Regions from separate parts of the Homo sapiens genome. Here all the other regions are linked to region 3. Evidence: fine-mapped expression QTL. A gene starts in region 3. Each other region holds a variant in brackets. All regions are shown on one strand. Distances are between the middles of the regions. Region 1 has its middle 40 kb from the start of ZNF365. Region 2 overlaps ZNF365 (zinc finger protein 365). Region 3 holds the start of ZNF365 (zinc finger protein 365).

Region 1 (8,028 bases), 41 kb after region 3:
CTCCCTCCCCATAGGCACCTGTGTGTGTAGTTCCCCACCCTATGTCTATGTGTTCATATTGTTCAGCTCCAACTTATAAGTGAGAACATGTGGTGTTTGGTTTTCTGTTCCTGCATTAGTTTGATGAGGATAATGGCTTCCAGCTCCATCCATGTCCCTGTAAAGGACATTATCTCATTCCTTTTTATGGCTGTATAGTATTCCATGGTATATATGTACCACATTTTCTTTATCCAGTCTATCACTGATGGGCATTTGGGTTAATTCCATGTCTTTGGTATTTTCATGTCAAATGGTATTTCTGCTTCTAGATCTTTGAGAAATGATCACACTGTCTTCCACAATGGTTGAAATAATTTACACTCCCACCAACGGTGTAAAAGTGTTCCATTTTCTCTACAACCTTGCCAGCATCTGTTGTTTCTGGACATTTTAATAATTGCCATTCTGACTAGCTTGAGACAGTGTATCATTGTGGTTTTGATTTGCATTTCTCTAATGATCAGTGATGTTAAACTTTGTTTCATATGTTTGTCAGCTGCATAAATGTCTTCTTTTGAGAAGTGTCTGTTCATGCCCTTTGCCCACTTTTTAGTGGGATTGTTTGTTTTTTATTATTGTAAATTTGTTTAAGTTCCTTGTGGACTCTGGATGTTAGACCTTTGTCAGAGGGATAGATTGCAAAAATTTTCTCCCGTTTTGTAAGTTGTCTGTTCACTCTGATGATAGTTTATTTTGCTGTGCAGAAGCTCTTTAGTTATCAGATTCCACATGTCAATTTTTGCTTTTGTTGCAATTGCTTTTGGTGTTTTCATCATGAAATCTGTGCCTGTGTCTATGTCCTAAATGGTATTGCCTAGATTTTCTCCTAGGGTTTTTATAGTTTTGGGTTTTACATTTAAGTTTTTAATCTGTCTTGAGTTAATTTTTGTATAAGGTGCAAGGAATTAATCCAGTTCCAGTTTTCTGCATGTGGCTAGCCAGTTCTTCTGGCACTATTTATTAAATAGGGAATCCTTTCCTCATTGCTTGTTTTTGTCAGGTTTGTTGAAGATTCAATGGTTGCAGCTGAGTAGTCTTATTTCTGAGTTCTCTATTCTGTTCCATTGGTCTATGTGTCTGTTTTTGTACCAGTACCATGCTGTTTTCATTACTGTAGCCATGTAGTACAGTTTGAAGTTGGGTAGCATGGTGACTCCAGCTTTGTTCTTTTTGCTTAGGATTGTCTTGGCTATTTGGGCTCTTTTTAGGTTTCATATGAATTTTAAAACTAATGAGAACAAAGAGACAATGTACCAGAATCTCTGGGATGCAGCTAAAGTAGTGTTAAGAGGTAAATTTATAGCACTAAATGCCCACATCAAAAAGCTAGAAAGATCTCAGATTAACAACCTAACACCATAATTAAAAGAACTAGAGAACCTAAACCAAACAAACCCCAAAACTAGCAGAAGACAAGAAAAAGAGAAAACTTCAAGCCAGTATCCCTGATGAACATTAATGCAAAAATCCTCAATAAAATACTGGCAAACCGAATCCAGCAACACATCAAAAAGCTTATCCATCACTATCAAATTGGCTTCTTCCCTGGGATGCAAGGTTGGTTCAATATATGCAAATCAATAAATGTAATTCATTACATAGGCAGAACTAAAGACAAATAACACAAGATTATCTCAATAGATGCAGAAAAGGCCTTCAATAAAATTCAACATTGCTTCATGTTAAAAACTCTAAATAAACTAGATATTGAAGGAACATACCTCAAAATAACAAGAACCATATATAACAAACCCACAGCCAATATCATACTGAATGGGCAAAAGCTGGAAGAATTCCCCTTGAAAACCAGCACAAGGCAAGTCTGTTGTTTCTTACCATTGCTATTCAACATGGTATTGGAAGTTCTGGCCAGGGCAATCAGGCAAGAGAAAGAAATAAAGGGTATTCAAATAGGGAGAGAGGAAGTCAAATTATCTATGTTTGCAGATGACATGATCTAGAAAATCCCATCATCTCAGCCCAAAATCTTCTCAAGCTAAAAAGCAACTTCAGCAAAGTCTCAGGATACAAAATCAATGTGCAAAAATTGTTAACATTCCAATACACCAACAACAGGCAAGCAGAGAGCCAAATCATGAATAACTCCCATTCACAATTGCTACAACAAGAATAGGAATACAGCTAACAAGAGAAGTGAAGGACCTCTTCAAGGAGAACTACAAACCACTGCTAAAGGAAATCAGAGAGGACACAAACAAATGGAAAAACATTCCATGCTCATGGATAGGAAGAATCAATATCATGAAAATGGTCATACTACCAAAAGTAATTTATAGATTCAATGCTATTCCCACAAAACTGCCATTGAGCCCCATCTGATCTGAATGCTCTTCCTTAAATGAAGGCAGTTCATAGCTGATGCTGGTCTTCCCAGGGATAGCATGGACTTTGACAGAGCAAGTTGGAAAGAGAGAAGGTTGGCTAATAGGCAACTCTCCCTCCTCAAGTGGTAACAAAAACTCCTCTGAGATTACTGTATAGCAATGGTTCTAAAACCCTGATGGGTATCACAGTTACCTCTGGAATTTAGTAAAAGTAAAAATACAAAGGCATCTGATGTTTTCTATTAGCTCTCCAACTAATTCTGATATACACCAAAGTCGTAAACTACTGCTCTATGATGTGGTTGTATTTCCCAAAGTGTGTTCCATGTATCACTAGTTCCTCCGACTCATACTAGTTAAATAAAGGAATTGTCAGGCTAAACATATTTCCCTACTGCAGACGGTTCAGCATTACGACAATGAAAATGTGCATTGTGAATCTTTTAGAGGAGAAAAAAAGTATGCAAATGCTCCCTAAACTTATTTGACCATGGAACTGTTTCTTCTAAGGGAACATGCATTAACGTCTTCTGCAAACACAGCAGTTACTGTTCAGAATAATATTATAGTAAACGCTTCAAAAATACAATCACTGAGCACCCCTCTGTCTTCTTAGGAAAACTTTTGACCCTCTGTCTTAAGGCAATTCACAACTGTCTGCCAGAGTGGTCAAATTTTAGATGATTTAGGGTGTACCTAACACCTCACTTTTAAAAATGTTCTGTAGTCCAGCAGTATCCAGCATCACTTGGAAGTTTGTTAGAAATGAGGAATACCAGGTCCCACCCTAGATCTATTGAATTGGAATCTGCATCTTAATAGGATTTTTGGATGGTTCCTTTGCATTCACCACGAGAAGCAGAGGTTTTTAACCAGAAATAAGAGGAGGAGCCATCCAATATACAAATATTGGCCCTCTCTTCACCATCCTCTATCAAAACTTCTGAATCATTCTTGTAAACAACGTGAAACAGAAATATGCCTGTAGATGACACTGATATACTCACTAGATCTTCCTTTCTTTGGTTCAGTTTTTCAAAGGCTGGGCTCCTGACTGAAAGAGTCACAGGTAGCAGTCCTCATAGATTCAGGATTACCAGCAAGAAGCAAACACTTCCTAAAACTTACAGTGTTTCTCAGCCAATAAATTATATATATTAGTTTATTGGATATAATAGAGAAGAAATGCTTTGTGACTCTAATTAGTGCAAAAATTGCTTAGGATTTTAATCATTGTTTTTAGGCTTCTTAGCACAAGTGAACTGTAAATGAAGCTCAAAATTATCCTATCTAGCTCTTTTTTTTTTCTTAGACAGAATCTCTTTCTGTCACCCAGGCTGGAATGCAATGGTGCAATCAGAGCTCACTGCAGCCTCAACCTCCTGGGCTCAGAGGATCCTCCCACCTCAGCCTCCCATGTAGCTAGGACCACAGTCATACCACCATATCTGACTAATTCTTTTTTTTTTTTAATTTTGTTTTAATTTTTATAGAGACACTATGTTGCCCAGACTGGTCTCAAACTCTTAGGCTTTAGCAATCTTCCCACTTTGGCCTCCCAAAGTGCTGGCAAGTGTGAGCCACTGTGTCTGGCCATCTATCTGGAGCTTTATTCTTACAAGTTTTCAGCTCCATTTCTGAAATACTCTGCCAATTGTACTACC[T/C]GGTGGATCATCCAGGTAATGCATCTTCTTTTTTTCTGTTCATATGGCATCTCCCTAGTTTCTAACCTTCTGCTACACACCCAAATTCTCCTCCTTGTCTTGCCTTTGGCTTTCAGCCGTTTTATTATGATGTGTTTAAGTGTGATTTTATTTGTATTCATAGTGCTTGTGGTTGCTTCTTGAATCTGTGGCTATTATCGTTTCAAATATTTCTTCTGTCTCATTCTTTCCTATCCTTTTGGGATACAGGCTATATGTATGCTATGCCTTTTCACTGTGTTCCACGTTTCTGGTGCTTTTTCTATATTTTCCATTCCTATTCTTTCTGTGCTTCAGTTTGAATATTTTCTATTGACCATTCTTCTGGTTTATTAATCCTGTCTTCTGTGTCTAATCACTGTCAAACTCATAATTTCAGATGTTACATTTTTAAAATCTAAAATTTTCGTCTGATTTGTTTTTAGAGATTACGGTTCTCTGAGAAATTCCTCATTTTAAAAAGTATTTTCCTTATTTTTTTGAACATATTAATTACAGTAAAAGTCTTTGCTAATTCCAATATCTAGGTTACCCGTGGCTCTATTTCTATTGCATGTTTTTTTTCCCTCTTGGTTTTCAGTAACATAGTCCTCACTCTCAGCATGTGGAAAATTTTTTTTTTAACCAAATGCTGATCACTGCATGTAAGAATTATATAGGCTCCAGATGACTTTTTCTTTCTCCCCAGTGTGTTCGCCCTTTCCACTACTGGGCAAACAAAATTAAGACTGATTATTTAAAGTGATTAGGGTTTGAACTGAGTTGAGGCTGATGTTTAGTTTTGGTAAGACTCAGTCTACCTCTTATTTGGTCCTGTTATTACGATATTGTTTCTTAGGGTTTTCAGCTGAATGCTTGGTGTGTTCATTGGGCTCTCTCTCTCTCTCTAGAAGAATCTAATCTTGATCTCATTAGCATTATGAAACAGTAAAAACTCTTCTGATTTTCAGGTTTTGGGCTTAGCTTGCAAGTTCTAAAATTTACTCTTATTTCTCTAGTACCATAAGTACATGAAAAGCATGCTACTTTGTGTTTCATATGTTTTCTGTTTAACTTTTCAATCTCCTGCCCTCACATCTTCTGAAATTGGCAGAGGTCTTGAAGGGTTGTGTGTTTGAGGCTCCTCATCTTCAATTCTCTACAGACCCTCAAGACCACATACTTTGCTGGTATTTAGTTTTAACAGCAGTCTGGGAAAGTCTTAAATTGCCAATTTGTTAAAATTTGCAAATGCCCCTAGGAAAAAGTGACTGCCTCTTACCAACTCACCTTTCTGAGGTTCTCTCCTGTTTAGAAAATTAGCCATTCTTGTCCTCTTTGGTTCAACAGCTATCTGATGTTTTTGAGAGTTAATCTATATTTTATTCCGTGTTTATAGTTTTCTTGAAGGAGGCATTGGTCAGCCACAAATTATTCCCCTTCTACTCAGAACTGGATGTTCCTATCTTGCTTCTTGGATTGACACTTCAGTCACATAATTTCCCTGGTTTTTCATTTTGATTTCACCTTTGCATTCTATTTCTTAGATTGCCCTCACCTCTGAGCTGTGCAAATCTCTTGATTCCTCCCTCAGCACAGGTCCTTACACAGGTCAAGTGTCTTAACTTCTACCTGGTCAGATAAAATATTACCAGAAAAAAAAAAACGATGAAACTAAAACTCAGCATAAGCTGAACACAAAGAAAGCCAAATGCAAGAAATAACTTGGTAAAAGAGTGATTTGTACCCAAGTTAATGTTCTCCTAACAAAAGAAAGGGAAGTGCTTTCTCTAGGTATTCATTCTCTGAAGAATGCTTTTCATGTGAAATGTTCCCATGTTTTCCTAATACTGAATCTCAAAACCAAATGTCTGATATCTCAAATGGATAGCCTATTTTTCGAATGTCTTGATGACAGAAAATGAGAAAAAAATGGATGGATTAAAGATGTTTGAAAGGTCATGGATCCTTTGCAGCTCAAAATAGCTTTTTCTATTCATGTTGAATCTTATTGAGGCGGAGAGAGTTGAGCAGACACATAATTGTAGAACATGAAGTTACAGGTTGAGCCTCCCTTTTCAGAAATGCTTGGGACTAGAAGTGTTTTGGATTTTGGTGTTTTTTGTTTGTTTGTTTGTTTTTACATTTTGGAATATTAGCCTTATACTTACTAGTTGGGCATCCCTAATCAGAAAACTTGAAATCCAAAATACTCCAGTGAGCATTTCATTTGAGTGTCATGTTGGCACTCAAGAAGTTTTAGATTTTGGAGTATTTCAGATTTTAGTATTTTGAATTTGGGATGCTTAACCTGTATTACTATAATTTAATGTACTTCTCCAAACTAATTAAAGGGCCCTTGAAGGCATGTTTCTCAGTAATTCACTAACCCAGAGAATTTCAGATTATTTGAGGTCTGATAGAGCTATTTTGTTAGCATAAGACTTACTGGAAATAGTATTAAAATATATATTCCTTTTCAAGAGAAATAACCTCAGAAAGTATACTTACTTTGTTTACCAATGACCACTTGTGTTGTTCCTAAAAATTTCCAACATTTGTCCTCAACGACTTGAATGTACTTGAACTAAACATGTGATTCTTTCTCCTTATTTTGTGTCATTATAACGTTTGCTCCTGCATCAGCCTAATGCTGATTATTACTGTGCATCTTGTCTGAAGTGTTTGGAGTAGACTACTTCAGTACTTTGTGCCCTAGCAGTCATTTTTTAAAATACTGGTAATGATCCCAGTGGATAAAACATTTAATAGTCTTTCATAAACAGAGCCTGCTATAAAAATGAACAAAATGTCCATTCTCATCAATTTGCTAATGCCGTGTTTGGTTCAGCTACAGTTCATTCCTGCAGGCTTTACCTCTAAAGGGTTGGCATAGAAAATGAGAAGAAATGAAAATCAGCTCATCTAAATAAAACCACTGGGACACTTGCTAATATTCCTCAGATCTCTTTCTCCAACTTAAGCTAGATGTGATTCAACATCCACGGCTCAAATTTTGTTGTTTTATTTTTGCCTTAGAAATGAACAGAACTTAGAGATCTTTAATCTCCTGTCTTTTTTTTTTTAATACTTGGGGAAACTAAAACATGTTCAATAGAGTGACATTCCAGGAATCACCTAGAGAGTAGCATGGAATACAGCCTGAGTCTCTTAATTTTCTCAAGTCTCTTAATTTCTTCAAGCTCCTTGACAACAAGTAACAAATTTGCTTTTCTTAAAAAGACTGACTTTTTGTGTGAAAGGGAAAGGGATATATATGAAAAAGGAAATACACATGTATTTACAAAAGGAAGCAATGAAGTGATAAACTAAAACCTAATAAAAATAGTTAATTCTAAAGGGAGTGAGAGAACAGGAAGGAGGGGACAAGAATGGAACTAAGACTTTAAATTACCTTGTTTTATGATTTTCATTTTGGACATAATAAACAATTTAAATGTAGAAAAATTGAAAATATAGAAAAATAATGACAAAAATGCACAAACAACTAAAGGAATAAAAAATAGAATCTAATATATTTACTATCAGGAATAATTTTAAGTGGTCTATCTTATAGTATTGATATTTGAACATCAAAATGAAAGTCTCAACCCTGGTCAATATTTCTTTTTTTGACATAAAAAAGCACATACATTTTGTCAATATTTATATGGTTTGGAGTTCACAAAAAATAGGCTGGTTAGAATTGAATAAGTTAGACGCAGGGGCTTATTTACCCTTCTAATGGATAAAAACAGGTTTGGAGTTTTTAAACAAAGTTTATAGGAGGCCATTGTGTGAAATGACCAAACCAGAATGGAGTTTCTGGAGCTAGGTGCCACATAATCTATCTTTAAAATGACTTCTCTTCAAAAAAAGAAGTGATGTGCAGCAACCAATCAGAAGGGGTGCCTGAGACAGCATAAGGATGTCTCCTCTCTGTTATAGCTTTAGGGAAA
Region 2 (10,571 bases), 30 kb after region 3:
ACAAGTCAAGAGACATGAGTTCTGGTCCCATCTTCTCCATAGACCAACTGTCTGTATTATTCGGGGTAGTCATTAACATTTTCTATACCTCAGTCTTATCACTGTAAATAGAACTAGTAATATCTCCCTGGGAATTTAGTACCATGTGATCTTTTCATGGCGACCACAGGAATTTTTGGAAGAAAAATACTCATATTATGATTTGCCTTTGTGGTAGCATTATCACCACTGTAGCATGTAGGAGAGATTGTGCCATGAGTAATTATTCTTTTAAGGTTTTAAAGAAATCTTTCTTTCTGCTCATCTCTTCTCCACTCCCCCCTCCAACCCTCTGTAGAAGCCGAGGGCACCCGCATTCGGTATGTAACCACCCTGATCTCAAGGCCCATTTCCACCCAAAGGGAAGGAACCACCTGAAAAAGGCCAAGGATGACAGAGCCAGCATGCAGCCTGCCAAGGCCATTCACGAACAGGCTGAGTCCTCAAGAGACCTCTGCAGACCTCCAAAGAAAGGGGAGCTCCTGGGGTTTGGCCGCAAAGGCAACATCAGGCCCAAAATGGCTAAAAAAAAGCCAACAGCCATTGTGAACATCATCTAAAAGGGTGGGTGGTGCTGGACCAATCATCGCTGGGCTTTGGGGAACGTTGTTCCAGGAGCCAACAGTAATGTCTTTCTGGAAACATTCCATAGTAAGACACATTGGAAAAGCCAAGGGCATAACACAGGCAAGCACCTCAATTAACCAGAGCTTAGCAAATGGGAATCTTAGTGAACCAGAATTTTATTATAACCCCCTTTTAGAAGCTTGCAAATTACAGAAAGAATAAAAAAATTAAATCAATCTTAAAGCTCTAACTTCTAAAGTAACTGGCCCAGTCTCCAGTAATCTTGGCATCTGGGCTTCTATGCAGTGGTCACTAATTTTCAGGACCAAGGCCACACAAAATGTCAGGCCTAGGGAGAAAATTCATCTGTGCCCACTGCTCTCCAAAGTGCGAGGCAAGGAATGGCAGTGTAAAGTTCTGTTAATAGCAGTAAAATGAAAATATTTGTGTTTGTGTATAACCTTCCCCTCAGCTAATTTGAAAGCCTCCAAAATAAGGATTCCCATTCCCCGAGTATTCTGGTTAATCAAGATTTCAATTTCTGGGTTGCTCAAGGGACTCGTTCAGTCAGACTTCAGTTCTCATTCCGACAGGGTGTCTTTCAGTTCGTTTGTTTGATTGAGGTTTTTTGGTGGCCTAGATGCATGTTTATTCAGATTTTGGTACACCTCTGCCGTCTTCTTTGGCTGAGTATTCTGCACCCACAGACCATGCTGCCAGCCTCTATCTTAATAGCTGCTTCTGTGGATATGGCTGGGGAGCGAAGTAAAATCCTCTTTTGATTAGCACCCAGCATGGGCTGGGTGGCTAGGTGGTTGGAATGACAGTGGACTGCACGCTTGGTGCATCGTGCATCGTGACCATCCTGGAAGCACTGCGGGTGTCGCCAAGCCCTTTCCTAAGACCTGCTTCCCGGCCAGTGTCAGTGGCCCTCTCTCTCTCTGCTATGGGCATGACTTTCTCTTCGCTGGCTTAACTTTTCCACTGGGTGGTTCACTTTGCCTCCTGCTGCTTCTGTGCCCTGTTAAGGGCTTCAGGTATCTTTCAACCAAGTATCTGGAGTGTTCACTCTATGTTGCATTCTAAAGTAATTTCTGAAATAAACAATGCATGTAGGAGCCAGAATCTGACACTGTCTTCCCCTCCTTCCCTCCCTAAAATGGCTTTAGTTTCCACAAAGAGCTGTTAAGAATTTCCTGCTGTATGATTTTCCTCAAGAATGAATTTCCATGTTATTTTTTCCTTAAATTTAGCAATATCATCAGGTCTCTTGCAGAGTTTACAAGTGCTGACATTCTTCTGAAAACAGGAATAATTTTGTCCACAAATATATACATATATACATATATATAACACATACAAAATATATATGTTAAGTATATTAATAATTTATTTTTAAATACTCATGGAGAAAGTGTGTGTTTGTGGTGGGTGGTTTTTAAACTATATATGTTTGTTCATGTAAACTGAATTCTCTTATTTAAAAAATCAAAACTGTAACGTAATTAACATTGGCAGAATTATGATTGTTACTGCAATAAGCATCAAATTAGCAGCGCATTAAAAATAGGAAATAAAGCAGTTGCTTAAAATGCCAGTCAATTGAAAAGTGTAACTTATCATTATACAAACATTCTGAACCTACCATAATGAAAATGTTCTTGAATCTTCACTTTGACTTTCAGTTTATGGGGGGGGTAGATCATTCATGTGATATATAAGCAGCTATCAAGTGGGCAAAAACATTGCTGTGAATAGCACTGTTTAGGCTAACATTGTAAAAATTGTAATGTTATAATTATTATTTATTTGGAGAATTAACTTCCCCCTCTAAAGTTATTTATTATTGATGCTTATACCATGATTGCACCTTAGCCTTTTACATACTAAAAACATGACTTGTTAGTTGTATTGCATGCTCTTTGTCCTGTAATGTGTGTGCAATGACAACTTGTTTCTGTTTTATTTAAAGTAACTGACATTTTGGATTTTCATCTAACATAGAGGGCATGGCAACTCTCTTTGACAGTGGTACCCCATGATCTTCAGAAAGTACCATAATGTCATCCTACTCTACATTTCACAAGACGAATTATTTTGAGATTTGTTTATTATATTAAAATGTTTTTTTACGTTCCCACTAAATTTTGACCCCATATAAAGAAATGTGTTATGTATGTTGTGCCTCCTTAGAGACATAAATTTAGTGTCAAAACATGGGAGATGGCTTACTCAGAAGCATACTCCACTTAACATACCATGGCCTGAGCTAAGTACCATGTCCTGTTTGTGTCTTATTTTTAAATATTTTCTTTGTCCACATGGGCCGTTGACCTTAGAGTTAAGGCGGTTGCTTTTTTGAAGAAATCACCAAAGTTTCTGGGAAACTATGTTCAAGGTTGAAATGGAGAGTAGATTTAATTTTATTTGTCTTGTAGGGAAGAAATCTTCCTTTGAACCGCTTTTCTTGCTTTTTCCCTTTTTCCCAAACTAGGTTACAGGTTCTTATCTGCAAGGTTCAAGTTGCTTAGACATTGTTTTCCAGTATTCTGCAGGGCCAGTCAGTTGTACAGAAGTTGGAATATTCTGTTCCAGAATTAAAGAAGTTTTTAGATTATGAAATATTATGATAATAAAGCTATATTTCTGACTAATGTGTTGATATGTTTTGTCTAGTTGGAGTGTTTTTTGGGGAGCCAAGTATGTTGATCCACTAACAGGAAACAAAATGGTCCTTCCTGAATAAGCTGTTCATCATACATATAATCACCAGGATCTTGTGTACCTATAGGTTTTCTTAACTTAGCTAGATCATTTTTGTTCATCATAATTCCTATATCTAAAAGTTATTTTTACATATGTTCACACTGAGACAGCTTCATTAAAAGCCCCATTTGGCACTTTTCCCCATCTTCCTCCACAACCATGAGTAATTTTCCTACACTGTATTTTTAAACTTGTCATCTCTTAGCAATTCATAAACAGATTTCACAGTATATATCCCAGCCTGTATATGCTATACATCCAAGACATTGCAAAGCCCAGAGAGTGATCAGAATAGATAACAGAGAGAAGTATGTGTCTGGTGGAATTAGCCATTGTTCTTTTAAGAACCATGAAATCAGGAAAATTTAGGGAACTCCATTTGTTTAGGAGCTGTGAGAGTTATTCAGGAGGTGACCTTAGTCTGCACTTACAGTTGACCCTTGAACAGTGCAAGGGTTAGGGACATCGACTCCTGCGTAATTCAAAATACATGAGTAACTTTTGACTGCTCAAAAACTTAACTACTGATAGCCTACTGTTGACCAGAAGCCCTACTGATAACATAGTTAACACATATTTTGTATGTTAAATGTATTATCTACCGTATTCTTACAATCAAACTAGAGAAAAGGACATGTTAGTAAGAAAATCATAAGGAAGAGAAGATACAGTTATATTCATTAAGTGGAAGTGGATCATCATAGAGGACTTCATCGTCATTGTCTTCACGTTGGGTGGGCTGAGGAGGAAGAGGAGGAGGAAGGGTTTGTCTTGCTACCTTTGGTGGCAGAAAAAATCAGGATGGAACTGGACCCGCCGGGTGCGGTGGCTCACGCCTGTAATCCCAGCACTTTGGGAGGCCGAGGCGGGCGGATCACGAGGTCAGGAGATCGAGACCATCCTGGCTAACATGGTGAAACCCCGTCTCTACTAAAAATACAAAAAATTAGCCGGGCGCAGTGGCGGGCGCCTGTAGTCCCAGCTACTCAGGAGGCTGAGGCAGGAGAATGGCGTGAACCCGGGAAGCGGAGCTTGCAGTGAGCTGAGATCGCGCCACTGCACTCCAGCCTGGGTGACAGAGTGAGACTCCATCTCAAAAAAAACAAAAACAACAGCAACAACAAAAAAAGAACTGGACCCACTCAGTTCAAACCTGTATCATTCAAGAGTCAACTGTAGTTATGTCAAGGTTAATGGGTTCCCCAGGTTATAGTGTTTTTGAGAAATAGCTGTGACATTCCTGATTATCTCAGTTTATTAGAAAACATAAATCCCAATATCTTGATTCTGCTCAATCTGGATCCTTCAGAAGTGAATTCCAGGGGTGGCATGCCTGCATGATCCCAAAAAGAAGCCCCGGAGCAATTTCAAATGTTTAAATGATGAAGAGCTTTAGAAATTGAATTCCTTTTTGTGGAATTAAGTAAATTTTTTCTTTTGTGTTCCTTTTTTTTGTTCATGTTCTGGGTCAGAACACAACTGAAATTTTCATTTAAGAAAAGAGTATTCGAACTATAGCCCTATGTTAAATTTACTCTGGATCTTCAGCTATTATTCCAGGATGGAAGAGTTTTTCCAGTAGAGGAACCTCACATATAGGCAGGCTAGATTCTCCTTCCCACCCTGTAATGGGGACACTGATACATTTTGCATATGTGGAGGTAGATGCCTAGGATGGTAAATGAGAACTTTGGTACCAATGTCCTGTGAGAAGAGGAGAGATTATTGCTGCCCTTAAGTATCTGAGGTGTTATCACATAGAAAAATACATATTTTGTGTGGCTGCAAAAGATATTACTGAGATCTGTGAGAGAAAGTTCTGAGGAAGCAGATGTCAAATTACTAAATGTAAAATTTCTAAGCACAACGGAATAGGTCACCTAGTTAAAAAGCGAGCTCCCTGTCTCTGAGCTACTATTTCCTTTGAGTACTACTTTTCTCTTAGCTACTCCTTTTCTCAGCCATTGTTCTTTTTAGAACCATGAAATCAGGAAAATTTAGGGGACTCCATTTGCTTAGGGGCTGTGAGAGTTATTTGAGAGGTGACCTTAGTCTGCCCTTATAGTTGACCCTTGAACATTGCAAGGGTTAGGGACACCGACTCCTGCGTAATTCAAAATCCATGAGTAACTTTTGATTGGGATTCTACATTGGGTTGGGAATTGGGCTGGGTTCTTCCAAAAATACTTGTAGTCTTGGGATTCTATTGTTTTATATATGTATTGATGTTACATTAATGTAAATGTTGGCCACATAAAACTTAGTGTCAACATGGTAACTTGATTTTGGAGATTTTATTTCACTGACTTGGGCTTTGCAAAGTTTGTAAATTTTGTAAAGTTACAAAGATAACACGCACCCATATTTATCCTTACAGAATCCTTTTGAAGCAAGTAGGGCTGAGGAGGTACAATTTTCTACTCTCAGCAGGTGGAGAAACAGCAGTTGGGGAAACAGGAGATGTACATCTTGTACTATTACCTCAGGATGATGTGCTTCTTGGAACGGAAGCATCTCACCTCCCTGAATGTGATTTCAGTGTTTAAAGAGAAGGTACATTTTTTGTTACAACATGGCTCCTGAATGCAAGCCAGGAACCTCATCTGGTGTTCAGTTAAATCAACAGCAGTTCTTTCCAGCACTGGAAGATAAATTGGCAATGTTGGACTTAGAGATGGTGTGTGTCATGTCAGGCTCCAGCATCGTGCCTTCTTCAGGCATTTTCCAGGTAGTTTTGATTATTCTTCAGCTTTTGCCTTTCTTATGAATATACTTAAGAAGGTGACATCATCACATTTTGCAATGAGAGGGGGGCTTATGATGGCTTGAAAGGGTTTCCAGGGCCCAGGAACGCCTCTGTGACAGAGCTTGAGTGAGAAAAAGGAATTGTCCTTCTACATCTCAGCCAATGCTCCTTCACCGTGTTCTGCCTCCTCATTGACAAAACTCCAAAAAATGATCCT[A/G]TATGCATTTGTTGATTACATAAAAGTTCTCAGTGTCCTAAAATTCTGTTTAACATTTATGATTGGTTATTGCACCTATGCAAGCCACTATGGGAGTTATAGACGTTGCCACTCTGTAAGCTCAAGACCTCTGCCACCCTTTAGAGATGAGGACCCCAACTTGCCAAGGAATTTCGAAGTCTCAGATTGAAGTCTGTTAGATTTTAGTGCATATGTTTGTGGACATTTCACATTGGTTGTTTGCTGACTAACAAGTGGCATTGTTCACTTTGGTTGAGTATATCATACAGAAACAGAAAGATGGTTTTATATCTCAACCTCTCCTCTTTCCAAGCCCTAATTATTTGTTCAAGGGTGAACCCCACTTCCCCATTCTCAGGAATGTACTTTATTTTTATCTTTAAGTGTGCCTGTAGCTTGAAATTATAGCTAACACTTCTCATATAGTCCTAAACACAGAGATCTGGTAGAGGGAACCAAGATTCTTAAAGGGTAAGGGATACCCGAGGAGCTTAGAGTGGGTAAGGGCAAGAGGAGTGGACACACAGTTAGTTATTGGGACGAAGATCAAAGCATTGAATTTGCCCCGCATGCCCTGGCTCTGGCCTGTCTCTCCACTCCAGCCAGCACCAGACCTCTTGCTCCTTTCCAGCCACTGCCTTCCTTTCAGAGAGAGCAGAGCTCTCTCCATGCACTGCTTCCCTGACATGTGTCTTCTGCCTGGAATGGACTTCTCTTTCTTTTTCATCTAGTTAATTTCTGTTCAGCCTTCAGATTTGAGATCAATTGTCACTTCCAAGGCAGCTTCATAACTCTCAGAATACCATGTACCTATTCCTTGTAGGACTGATTCTAGGTGCCCCTTTATAATATTTAATGGTGTGATGACTTGACTCATATCTGCCTTCCCCACTGTTCTGTCATTTCCATAAAAAGGGGCCAAGTCTGTACCTTTTATCCCTAGTATGTCCCCAGTGCCAGATGCAGTACCCAGCATAGGGTGGGTCCTCAATAAGGTATTTGTGGAGTATGGGAACATCAGTGGCCTCAGATATGCTAAAAAAGAAAACTACAATGAGAAAATGGACTTTCTTCCAGCTGGGGAGGATCAAAGAGGAAGTAGTGTTTGCAGAATGAACAGGATTGGAGTTAGCAAAACAGCAGAGCATTTTAGGCAGTCTGAGTGTGGTCATGGAGGTAGAAAGCATAGGACAAGTGAACCCTGGGAAGTAACATAATTTTTCCTTGAATATCCATTTCTTGGCCAGTCTGTCTCCCATTTTAAGCGTAAGCCCCTCAGGTCTGCAGCTATCCTGTAGTGTTGTATCCCATTGTGAGAGAACTGTATCTACCCTGATGCTCCAGCACCTAGCACTGGGCCTGCCGCTGTGTAGAGATTCAGGAGATCCAGTGAGACAGCATCATTCCTGGAACCTGGGCAGGGGCTCACCTTGCCAGAGGGTCAAGTATCTCCAGCTCCAGGAAGAGAAAAACTACAACAGTATGGAACCAGGCAGAGCACTGGAGCACTCTGCTTCTGCTTCTAAGGGTCCTTCCAGCAAGGGCTGGAGCCCACAAACTGGCTGTCACTCCTCTTATTGAAGCCATTCCTACAAACTTTATAAAATTAATCAGAGAAGCATGGAGGGGAGAAACAAAAATAAACCAAGCTGGCAGCACTGTCAGTGTTTGTTATGAGGTCAGCTTGCCCTCTGACCTGCTTCCCCATAGTGGTTTGTGGCCTATTGCCCCAGAATCATGCAGACCCTGCTGTAAGACTATAGCTCCCCTGAACTGCTGTATAGATAAAAACTCAAACACTACAAAACATTAAGCTTTTCCTTTGAGATATTCCTTCAGGTCCTGTGTACCAGTGAAACTACTGACACCTGCTTGCCTGAAGGACCCCACAAGAAGCTGACTCACTAAAGAATGCGGTTCCCACATTCCCTTTACCCTTCTTAGGAAAACTTTTGACTTTTGACCCTCACTGTCCCTGATCCCCTTAAAAACACCAGCCCAGGAAAAATCAGGGAGATGGATTTGAGGGTCTCCTCTCCTCTCCTCTCCTCTCCTCTCCTCACTCGGTGCCCTGTGATTGTTAAAGTCTTTCTCTGCTGCAAACCCTGCTGTCTCAGTGTATTGAACTATTACTGTGTAGAAGGCATATGAACCTGTTGGTCCTAAAGCCTTATCAGTAGGTATTTTAATACTCTCCTTCTTTTAGCCTGCATCTATGGTAAGATAGAAAATACATGGTATTTCCTTCTGAATCCATGGTAGACATTGCTAATTGGCCAGGGTTATCTTTCCTGATGAACACAGACATAGCCTCAGAATCCTTCTTAACACAGCCTTAACCAGCTGTGGTAGGCAGAATGTCTACCTACCCAAACTTTTAACTTTGGAAGAATCCTTTAGATAATAACTATGTGTTGTTTAAGCCACTAAACTAGTGATAATTTGTTACAGCAGCCATAGAAAATGAGTATACCAGCTAGTCAGCATACAAATCACAATCTATTTGCCCTTCCTCAACAATGGTGCAGTTGAAAGGGCACTGATCTTGGCATCCTGCTTTACAACTTACATCTGCTTTGACTGTGGGTCCAGTTTCCTCATCTGGAAAATAGATAGAATGATGTCTTGCCTTGGCCATGTGGAAAGCACATGGGAACAACCATGAAGTCTTCTCTCTCCCCTAATAACTTTCTAATCAAGAACTTGAAAATAGAAAAACAAGATTCTTCCCTGTGTACTAAAACAAAGGGCAACGTTTAATGAACTCAAAGCAGAAAATCATTAAGTTACATTAAACAGTCTGAATGGTGGTAAAGAACTGACTATAACCTGTTTGAAGATATTAACCTATCTAATAGAAACAGATAGGTATTAACATATCTAAAGAAAGACATCAGGCTCTGCCACTTACTAGTTTTATTATCTTGAGCAACTTATTTAATCGATTAGAGCCTCATTGTCTCTCTTTGTATTCAGGATCATGGTGCAGATTCAATAAGATATCCATATAAGGTTTTTAGCATAATACCTGGCACAGAGTCAGTACTTAATATATTTGTTTATTTGAGACTATTGGCTAAACACGGAGACTTAGAAAAGAGAGTGTCAGAAAACAAATACTAACAGCATCTGTTGGGGGATATATGGGCCAGTAAATAAGATTCCCCTCCCAAGTTATGAATTAACCAATACTTATTAACACACAAGCCCAATGCCTAGAGACCAAAATATCAGAGCTACTGGCAAGACTAGATCGTAGAACAGCCTTTGGACTCATATCTTGATGCGTTGGTTTTGTACCTTCATGCAATTGCTTTGCTTTGCTTCTTAGCGTCCTATGTTTTTATTCCCCAGCAGGGTCAAGATAGCGTCTCTGATCTTCTTTTCTTGGTCTTACTTTCTCTACTCCAGCTGTAGTTGACATCTGCTCTTCTTTTTGGCTGTTCGGAATTCAAACCCCCTTCTTGTGACTGCAGGGAGATTCCTTCCCTAATGGGGTAGGGCCATCTCCTACTTAGAAGCTGAAAATGCCACATGCTCATTTTCCTAGCTTTTCCTGAAACTGTGACTTAGAATCTGCCTATCAGATATGTCCACCCCAAGCTTCGGTCCAAAGGAATTAACTTAAAGAGGTAGGATGTGTATAAAATCCTGTCTGGTGATGGAAGAGAGTGGAGGCAGCAGCTCCATCCAGTTGCCTGAGGTATTGGCAATGACAGTTCTGACAGCAGAATCCTAGTGTTTTCAGTAGACCAATTCAGTGGTATAATTTTGGCATTGTTCCTGGCTGGCTAGCACCTCCAGATCTGGTTCTCTGTCCTCCCCAGAGATAATGTGATGTAAGAATGCCATTTTAATAAACTCTTTTCTAACGAATCGCTAGAATCCGTCTCTGTTGCCTGCAACTAAGAACCCTGATGAATAGACCACAGCTGCTTCAAGTACTTGGGGAAGTGAGGAACCATTTCCCTTTAAGGGTCTGTAGTGCATTCCAGTTGGGCTGTAATGAAGTGGTCATTGACTCTGTGGCACAAAAGGGTTTTTTTGTATTCTTAGCCCATTTCCTTCTTGTGCTTCAGGGTCAGGTACAGAGTACTACATATGCCTAATAGGAGGGAGCTGTTCCTCAAACAGAATAATCAGTTTGGCTCAATAGCTTAAACAAGCCCTGATTTAAGGCCTCACCAGATGGATCTTGTCAGAATCACTAGAGTT
Region 3 (10,571 bases):
GGCCACTTATTAGCTCTGCAACCCAGGGGGTTCCTTCTGCACACAGATGTTTGCTGCAGACATGGAAAAAGTAGCAGGAATCTGCTCTGGGTTCCCCTTGCAGGCCCTTTATCTGGGGCAATTATTCAAATCTTAGAGGGTCTGTGTTCAGTCCCCATAAGGCTGCTTTTCAGCAAATGTAATCAACATATTTAATAAATGGATCAAAAAAATTTAAACAGCCTCTCTGGTTCAAACCTTTCAAACCTGTATTTGAAAGGCAGCCGTTCTGGCCACAAGGGGTGAATGTTATTTGATAAATGGAGAGGAAAGGGAGCTAAAAAATCTCCATTCAATTCCTAGGTCTTTCAGCAGAGATTCTCTAACTATCCCAGCCTGAAGGGCTCTTTGCTGTCTCAAGGAAATCTATATTCTATATTAATCATTTGACCTTCCTCCCCTTCTTCTTCACTTCCTTTCTGCCTCTTTCTCTGTCTCTTTTCCTACCTATTCTTCCATTCTGCCCACCTCTTTTCCTCTCCACCACCCTTCCTTTCACAGTCATGATGGAAAAAGCCCAGGCTTTTGGAGTCAGAATTAGCTTCAAATTCTTACTACCTCTCATGCTTTTTAGTGGCATGACCTTCAGCTGTATTCATCGCATCTCCAGCAGCATCCTCTCTTGTGCATAAACGGCTGCCAATGTCTGCCTCGTTGGTTACTGTAACAAAGGACTGTTTCTCAAACTTCAGTGGTCATGAGAGTCACCTGGGGAGATAGGTGAAAATGCAGATCTTCAAGATCCACACCTACAGATTTCAATTTATTAGGTCAAGGTTCCAGACATCTGCATTTTGACCAGCTCCACAGGCTCCACAGGTCCCACTTTGAGAAACACTGGATATGTGCCTAAACATTTAATATAGTAAGATCCATTGTAATTACTCTAAAGGTGAGAGCTATGATCATTAACAATTCAGCAAACATTTATTGAACATCTACTATGTGCCAGGCATGATGTCAGGCCCTATAGACACTTCCCATTTAATTCATTTTAACATATATTTAACTTCTCTATATATATATATGTCCCATATATATATATCTCATATATATGTCCCATATATATATATCTCATATATATGTCCCATATATATATATCTCATATATATGTCCCATATATATATATATCTCATATATATGTCCCATATATATATATCTCATATATATGTCCCATATATATATATCTCATATATATGTCCCATATATATATATCTCATATATATGTCCCATATATATATATCTCATATATATGTCCCATATATATATATCTCATATATATGTCCCATATATATATATCTCATATATATGTCCCATATATATATATCTCATATATATGTCCCATATATATATATCTCATATATATGTCCCATATATATATATCTCATATATATGTCCCATATATATATATATCTCATATATATGTCCCATATATATATCTCATATATATGTCCCATATATATCATATATATCCCATATATATCCCATATAGTATATATATCATATATATCATACATATATGATATATATGATATATATGATATATATCATATATATCATATATATCATACGTATCATATATATCATATATATCATACGTATCATATATATATCATATATATCATACGTATCATATATATATCATATATATGATACGTATCATATATATATCATATATATGATACGTATCATATATACATCATATACATCATATATATCATATATACATCATATATATCATATATACATCATATATATCATATATATCATATACATCATATATATCTCATATATACCATATATATCTCATATATACCATATATATGCTCATATACCATATATACCATATATACCATATATATCATATATATACCATATATATGCATATATATACCATATATATCATATATATCATATATATACCATATATATCATATATATCATATACACCATATATATCATATATACCATATACATCATATATATCATATATACCATATACATCATATACATCACATATACCATATACATCATATACATCACATATACCATATACATCATATACATCACATGATATATATATCATATATATCACATATGTGATATATATCATGTGATATATATCATATATATCACATATGTGATATATATCATGTGATATATATCATATATATCACATATGATATATATCATATGTGATATATATCATATATATCATATATATCACATATATATCATATATATCATATATATCACATATATTATATATCATCTATATGATATATCACATATATATCATATATATCATATATATCATATATATCATATATATATCATATATATGATATATCACATATATATCATATATATCATATATATCATATATATATCATATATCATATACATGATATATATATGATATATATATCATATATATATCATATATATCACGTATATGATATATATATCATATATATCATGTATATGATATATATATCATATATCTCATATATATATCATATATATGATATATATCTCATATCTATCATATATATGATATATATCTCATATATCTATCATATATATGATATATATCTCATATATCTATCATATATATATGCCTTGTTCTCATTCCACTAGTTGTAAGTGCCTGGAGGGCAGAGTAAAACAGCATAATGTGGCATAGAAAAACATCAGTGTTTGAAGACATGAACTCTAACCCTGATTTTATTCTTTATTACCTATATGACTTTAGGCAAGTCACTTTACTTCCTAGAACTTTATTTTCTTCATCAAAAACTGGAAAGCCAATGAGTACAGTGGTTAAAAGCCCAGGGTTTGCCATCCTGGCTGTAATGTGTTCTAGGTTTGTGATCTTGAGAAAGTTACTTAACTTCTTTGGGCCTGTTTCCTCCTATGTAGAAAGGGGATTTATTTCTTCAGCATTCATTCTTTTAACAAATATTTTTTGAGCACTTTGATCAGCACTGTGCTAAGTCCTGGGAATATACTGGAGAGTAAGACAGACAAGGACCCTGACTCACATAGCTTACAACTTAACAGTGGACATAAATATTAAACAGACAACTACATCCATAACCCAGCACATAGAATTATTGTGACAAATCCTGTCATAATAAATTTTCCTAGTACGCACTAACCTTGTCCAGGAGTGTCAGGGAAGACCTCCTCAGAGAGGGCATACTTGGGATGAGCTCTGAGGGATGAGTAGGCATTACCAGATAAAGAGGCCCTAGAGACGGGAAAAAGCAGGGCTCTTAAGTAAAGGGATGCCAAGGTGGCTAGAACTGAGTGTACAAGGTCCTCCCTACCTCACAGGTGTTCAAAGATTAAATGAGGTAATTGGTGGTATACACAAGTGACACTTTGAGAACCACTTAAGGTCCTAAATGCCTGTTGACCAAGTTGAATTTCCCACAATACTCAGCTTTAGGCCCTGCACAGAATAACCTCTCCATAATTATTTGATAATATTTTATATTTTTAGGGTGAGAAAAGGACTTTGAAAATCTCCATCCTCTCATTTAACAGGGGAGGAACTTAGGACCAAAAAAGAAGTAGCAGCTGTCTAAGAAATGGGAGGAGCTGGCTGGGCGCGGTAGCTCACGCCTGTGATCCCAGCACTTTGGGAGGCCGAGGCCGGTAGATCACCTGAGGTCAGGAGTTCAAGACCAGCCTGGCCAACACGGCAAAACCCCGTCTCTACTGAAAATACAAAAATTGGCCGGGTGGTGGCAGGGACCTGTAATCCCAGCTACTAGGGAGGCTGAGGCAGGAGAATCGCTTGAACCCAAGAGGCAGAGGTTGCAGTGAGCTGATATCGCGCCACTACAGCCTGGGAGACAGAGTGAGACTCCGTCTCAAAAAAAAAAAAAAAAAAAAAAAAGGGGCGGGGGGGAAGGGAGGACCAGAGCATGCTTTTGTTATGTTTTGCCATGAAGGCAGTGGGTGTAAGAGGTTAACCTGCAGGCACCTCACAAGATGACGGAGATAACTTGGCACTCCAATGAGTGTATCTTTCAGACTTTAAGATTTTGTACTAAATAAATTGATTCTTGGAATAGTCTTGAGAGCGAGTCAAAAAGTAACTTCAATGAGATATAATATTTTCAAAGCAAACACACCCCAGCACAATAGCCTATCTCCATTTACGTAGAAGTTAGTACATATTAATTCCTCTTCTCCTTCCTGCTTTTTAAATGTGTGTAGGCCCCTTTTTTATGGAATTAATAATAATTATAAATGAAGTAGCAACAACGATAACAGCTGACTTTATCAGTGTGTGTCCCTGTCAGGCAGGGTTTTTACCTCCATCATCATAGCACATTCGATCCACCGCTATATTAAGAGGTAGGTCTTGATTATCTTCATTTCATAGATGAGGAATTGAAGGAACAGAAAAGTCTAGTTACTTGACCCAGGCCCTAGAACCAGGATTTGAATCAAGTCTGATGCCAGAGCTTGGGATCTTCATTGCATTTGATGTGATAATTCATTTGTGAAAAAACAAAGCAATTCATTTGTTTTCATTTGTCAAAAACAAAACAAAATTTCAACTAAGATAACTGTTGAGCTCTTTACCGTTAAAATAAAATCGGGTGTTGAAATGAGTAACAGCAAGCCTTGAGAAAAGACACCCTGAGAAGTCAAGAGGATGCATTAACTGTCTACAGATGAACAGAATCTCTTCTCTTCTTTGAACAAGAAAACCCAGCAGTAACTTTTATCTAGGTTTCACATTTCAGGAGTTACAGTAGGGGTAAACCAAAACAGGTTAAAAAAAAAAAAAAAAAAAAAAAAAAGCAAAAGCCCAGCAAGCTGAGACATCAGAGTCCTTCAGAAGGAATGATTTGCCGTCTTCTCTTCAGGACATCCCCTCTTTAGGAGGACAAATTTTTTCTCCAGGGAAAGGGGCGTCCGCCTCAGAAATGGGGGTGTAGGTGAGGGATCTTGTTGCTTTAACTGTTTGTTCATTAATCCCTGCACTTTACTAGATTTAGTTCTGCCTGTTAACGTAGCCTCAGGACACTTGGCTAGGAAGGCTGGAGTGTACTCTCTGGGTTAGTTATTTTGGGACATTCTCGCCCTGCTGCTTGGGATGAAGAGGTCCTAATTAAATACCCGGACCTTCCAACGGGTAGATTTTCAAAGAAGATGCCCAGCTATGCTGCATCCTCATCCACACTCTCCCGCTCCCCCCAAACTAGTGCAAAAAAGCTTGCCAGGGCCTGCAGAAAGCGCCGCGACTGCGAGGCTGACACGCGTCTTTCCTTCCCTCCCCCGGGGAATGATCCCAGCATCTCTCGCAGTGATGTCAGTGTAATCCTGAGTCGGATCGGGCTCCCGGCTGGGTGGCGGGGGGGCAGATGATGCTCCCGCCAGCTGGGCAGAGCAAGGGTGTTCCCCGCGGAGGTGGCAGCCCTGGGCCGCGGCGTTCCGGAACCCCCGCACCCACGGCGCGGTGCCCCACGGTGCCCGCGAGCGCCGCCCCCGCTGGCTAGCCGCGCCTCGCTCCGCCCTGGACGCCGCCGGTCCCGGCGCGGAGGTGCGGCGGGGAGTGGGAGCCGGCCCGGCTCAGTCTGATTTACGGCTCTGCTGAAAACCGCTTCGCTCCCGCAGCATCAGCACCGGAGGCGGCGGCTGCAGCAGCAGCAGCAACAAGTCGGGTAAGAGGCGGCCGCCGGCCATCTGCGCCCGCGGCTCGGCGGAGGGGACCTGCCGGGGTGGCCGGGGCTGGGGAGGGGGTCCCCGAGCCCGCAGCATGGCGGGGAGTTGGGAGAGCCGGCTTCCCGGCCCCCACCAGCAGGAACTCATGTGCACACGAATCCACTCTGGCACCCGTGGGCTGGCACGCAGCGGAGAGGGGGCGGGGAGAGCTGGGACCCCGGGGCAGGGTCATTGCCAGCCTGCCCTTCTCTGGCAGAGTCACTTAGGGCTCTTCATCAGCCCAGTGGACTGGGTTTCCTCTGGGCCCATAAAAGCCTGCGTGCTCTGGAGTGTGTGATTACCCATTTCCCCATCCAAAATGCCACCCTTTTCCCATTGCCCCCTTAGAATCCTGACTTCCCCTTTCCTTACCTCTTGTCAGCGTCTTTGGCCCTATGCTGAGCCAGGGTTTGCATCTCGTTCCCAGAAAACCAGTGGTTAAACATCCCGGTGTACCCATCACAGGAAGAGGTTCCCCTCTCTGGGGGCCGGGGGCTTCACCTAGAAGCCTTGCCTGCCTCGCTGCCTGGGGACCATTTGCACCTCTGCTTTTGAAGAGGTTGAGGACACTTTTCACCCAAAGACCCCAGCTGGGCTCCCTCATTTCGGGTCCAATGCTTGTTACATTTAAGTAGAAACCTTTCATGGAGGAATAGAAGATATGCACTGCTTGCAGAATTGGGTTGCCAACAGTCATCTGTTGCTAGGGTGAAGATAATGCATTCCTACAAGGAAACCAGAACTTCCTGTTATTAAGAGAGTATGCTGATACCTACCTGGTTCACACACTGACCATCCCTAGAGGTTGTCATATAAAATAGCATCTGAGACAAGACAAATCCGTCCAGAACACTCTATTATAATAAAAATCTTGGCCATGGCCCCACTTATGCCAAATGGTATTTGACACATTGGGTCCCCAGGTTTCAGTGAAACTCACGTATGGGGTCTGTTATTGTTACGATTAGCACTTTGGTTTATGTCATCACAGCAATACCTGAAGGAAAAAAAGGCAAAAATTTCAGGGTGAAAAATTTTCAGCTGATTGCAGGCTTAATGCCACTGTGCATAGCTTGAGTAATCTTTCCTGTACTTGAGGATAGGTCCTGAGCTTGCTGTCTTAGGACCCATTTTGACAATTCATGTGAGTTTTCATATGTTCTTGTGTTCACGCATCTCGGATTGTATCCTTAAAATGGGGCACGGTTTTGCATTTAGTGTGCCAAATTCAGGAGGGGAGGAAACTTGAATTCCACTTCTGGATCTACCACTTTCCATCTGACCTTGGATTAATGGCTTTACTTCCTTGCTTCAGTGTTCTCTTCTGTGGAGAGGGAATGTTACCCACCTTTTTGATTCTAGGTAGGAGTTGGCAAACTTTTTCTGTAAAGGTAGTAAATATTTTAGCTTTTAGGAGCATAGAGTCTCTGTCTCAGTTACTCACCACTGCCATTGTGGTTTACAATAAATAATACAGAAATTGATACGGCAGCAGTAAATAATGCAGAAATTGATGTGGATGGATTTGGCCCATGGGCTGTAGGTTTTAAGTGCAACATAAAATATTATGTGCAAAAGTCACTTGAAACCAAAAAGCCTCTGCTGTCATGGAGATGAGCAGCAATCATTTTAGTAGTGTGTTTTTCAGCCGACTTGTAAACTACCTATTTCCCCCCTCCCAGGACTTTTAGAGTAATGCAACAGAAGGCTTTTGAGGAAAGCAGATATCCCTGGCAGGAGTCCTTTGAGAATGTTGCTGTGTGCCTGCCATTACGCTGCCCGAGGTGTGGAGACCATACCAGATTTAGAAGCTTGTCATCCTTGAGGGCCCATCTGGAGTTCAGTCACAGCTACGAAGAAAGAACCCTCTTGACAAAATGCAGTCTCTTTCCATCCCTCAAAGACACAGACCTAGTCACTTCCTCAGAACTCCTGAAACCGGGAAAATTGCAGAGCAGTGGCAACGTGGTAAAGCAGAAACCGAGCTATGTTAACTTGTACAGCATTTCACATGAACATTCCAAGGACAGGAAGCCATTTGAGGTGGTGGCAGAGAGGCCTGTGTCCTATGTGCAGACCTACACTGCCATGGACCTCCATGCAGACTCGCTGGATGGGACACGGTCGGGTCCTGGACTGCCCACCTCAGACACCAAAGCTTCTTTCGAGGCACATGTCAGAGAAAAATTCAATCGAATGGTTGAGGCTGTGGATAGGACCATTGAGAAGAGAATTGATAAACTCACCAAAGAGTTGGCCCAGAAAACTGCGGAACTGTTGGAAGTTCGGGCAGCTTTTGTGCAGCTGACTCAGAAAAAGCAGGAAGTTCAGAGACGAGAGCGGGCCTTAAACAGACAGGTGGACGTGGCCGTGGAAATGATAGCTGTACTGAGGCAACGCCTGACGGAATCTGAGGAGGAGCTTCTTAGGAAAGAAGAGTAAGTGTTGCTGACAGGGGATGCTAACCCCATTGCTTTAAGCAGCACCCCAATCGCCTTACAAGCAAATGCTAAGCAAGGTTGATTTTTGCTATTTGCAGGTGCCTTGACTGCATTTCTTATTGATATAGTTGAACCAGGAGGAACAAGGCTTTGATATCATTTACCCTCTGTGTGCACGGTCTGCAACCTAGCAGCATTAAAGTCAAATATCTAATTCCTTCTCAACTGGGAATTTGTAAACCACAGACTATGCTTTTAGAGAGAAGACTAGCACAGCCTAGCCATGGTGGGATCCATTCCTAGCACCAAATGGCGTGCAAGGGTGAGTTGAATGGGAAGGCAGAAAGGGTGAGCTAAGTGAGCTGTTCATTCTTGACAGTCTCCGTATTATAAAGTCAATGCAAGATGCTGTCTTAAGTTCAAAAACATTCCTCCAGTATAAATAAGTTTGGTTTATTTGCCATTTTGTATTATCTGCCCAGGTTAATTAAATGTTAGTAGCTGAGAATCCATTTAATTTAATTTATATTTGGGAGAAGCAGACATTAGGGCACCCAGAGGAAAGACTTTCTGATATTGCTATACTTCTATGATTTAAGTTTGAGACTTGACTTTTTGGCAAATGATGTATTTTTTTTTGTTATATTTAAGTTTTGCCCACTTGCAAAGAGTTGAGATTGGTTTTCACAAGTTATAGATCATAGAAGCTATTGCTTGAGAAATCATCATACTTAGAGAAGCATTTCTTTATCAGTAAGTATAGATTTAACCCAAACTAGAAAAGTGTACATTACAAGTCAGTGTATTTCCCAAATGCAGAATGTCAGATTTCATTTTAAATAGAGGTTTAGAAATTCATGGAATCAAAGGACATTAAAATTGATGGAGTAAAACATCCTAAAAGGTAGGTTTCCAAATAATTTGAGTTCTATTATAGAGATTGATTTAATTTCATCTTTTCTTTGCCCTCTGGCACTCTTCTATTTTGTGTTGTCTCTTAAAATGTAATAATTAGAACTTCCTGAGACACTCCATAGATTAAAGAGATCATTACTTGCTATCACTTAAATGCTTACGTTCTACCTTGAGGGGAAGCCTAGACATTTTTTGTTCAGGCGAGACATTTTTTAAATTACGTAGTTAGGATGGATTTGAATCAGCCTCTGACTTACTTTGCTCCTAGGGAAATAATCTCTAATGAAAAATGTTTCCCTTTTGGTTTCTGGTGTTTCCTGGTGGGAAGTTAGTGTCTAGACCCGTTAATGGCCACCAGAGTGACCCGCACTGTGCTGTTGAAAAAAGGGCAGATGTGGTTACTCTATGCGTAAAGAAAGGCCTAGAATTAAATTTGAACATTTTTGCTTCATTCAAGAGCAGTGAGTTTAAAAGGCAACAAAATTAATTTTTTGAACTTATTTATTTGTTGTATTTTACTAATTAATTACACGAGTAATAATGAACATGAGATCTGGGGTAGTAGTTGCCTGGAGTGATGGGTTCAAGAATGCTTAATTGTTAAAAATATCTGTCTAAATAAAAGTGGGCTATGCATGGGTCAGTTACATGTTATGGTTAATCCAAGGCTGCCACCTGAGCACCAACTGAAAAACTAAGACATGTTAAAACAGGAAAAACTTGAATAGGAGAGAATTATATGTGTAAAAGTAGCCTCTCCAATCCAAGCACATCCTATCCTGTCCTTCAGAGACAGCCACTGTTAAGTTCCGTAAATGTCCTTCCAGACCTTTCCTGTGTGCCTGCAATCGTACACACACAGATTCCATTTTTCTAAATGAAATTGTGACACATACTGTTCTGCCAATTGCACGCTGAATTGTTTTTGTTTTTAATATAATAGATTTCAGGCATCTTTTGTTTACTAAGTACAGAACTATACTACTCTTTTTGACTGTTGTGTAGTATTCCATGGTATGGATGCATCATGATGCATTTAACCAGTTTGTTATTGATGAATATATAGTTTTATTCCATTTTCCTAGTATTAGAAATAGTGCCTTGGTTATTATCCTTGTACATGTTTGTTCACATTTTTGTGAGTATGCCTGAGGATAAATTACGAGTTGATTTTTTTTTTTTTTTTGAGACAGAGTCTCACTTTGTCACCCAGGCTGGAGTGCAATGGCATGACGTCAGCTCACTGCAACCTCTGCCTCCTGGGTTCAAGCAATTCTCCTGCCTCAGCCTCCCAAGTAGCTGGGGTTACAGGCGCCCACCACTGCACCCAGCTATTTTTTTGTATTTTTAGTAGAGACGGGGTTTCGCCATGTTGGCCAGGCTGGTCTCGAACTTCTGACCTCAGATGATCTACTGGTCTTGGCCTCCCAAAGTGCTGGGATTATAGTT

The links. PIP is the estimated chance that this variant, and not a neighbour inherited with it, causes the effect. A credible set is the group of variants that fine-mapping cannot tell apart.
Region 1: its variant is the best candidate, but not a certain one, in a credible set for the expression of ZNF365 in whole blood (INTERVAL, PIP 0.74).
Region 2: its variant is the best candidate, but not a certain one, in a credible set for the expression of ZNF365 in T cells (TOPMed, PIP 0.77).

The regions. Positions count from the first base shown.
Region 1 is chr10:62,410,522-62,418,549 of GRCh38, forward strand. It overlaps a transcript of ZNF365 not described here. Among named protein-coding and RNA genes, the nearest start is that of ZNF365, 40 kb to the left of the region's middle. The variant T/C (reference allele first, on the strand shown) is at 4,052.
Region 2 is chr10:62,399,191-62,409,761 of GRCh38, forward strand. ZNF365 (zinc finger protein 365) reads left to right here. Exons shown (of 5, transcript NM_014951.3): 5 at 338-3,260. The coding sequence ends at 599. Among named protein-coding and RNA genes, the nearest start is that of ZNF365, 30 kb to the left of the region's middle. The variant A/G (reference allele first, on the strand shown) is at 6,336.
Region 3 is chr10:62,368,733-62,379,303 of GRCh38, forward strand. ZNF365 (zinc finger protein 365) reads left to right here and starts at 5,637. Exons shown (of 5, transcript NM_014951.3): 1 at 5,637-5,726; 2 at 7,449-8,204. The coding sequence starts at 7,462. LOC283045 (a long non-coding RNA gene) reads right to left here and starts at 6,395. Exons shown (of 4, transcript NR_104162.1): 1 at 6,139-6,395.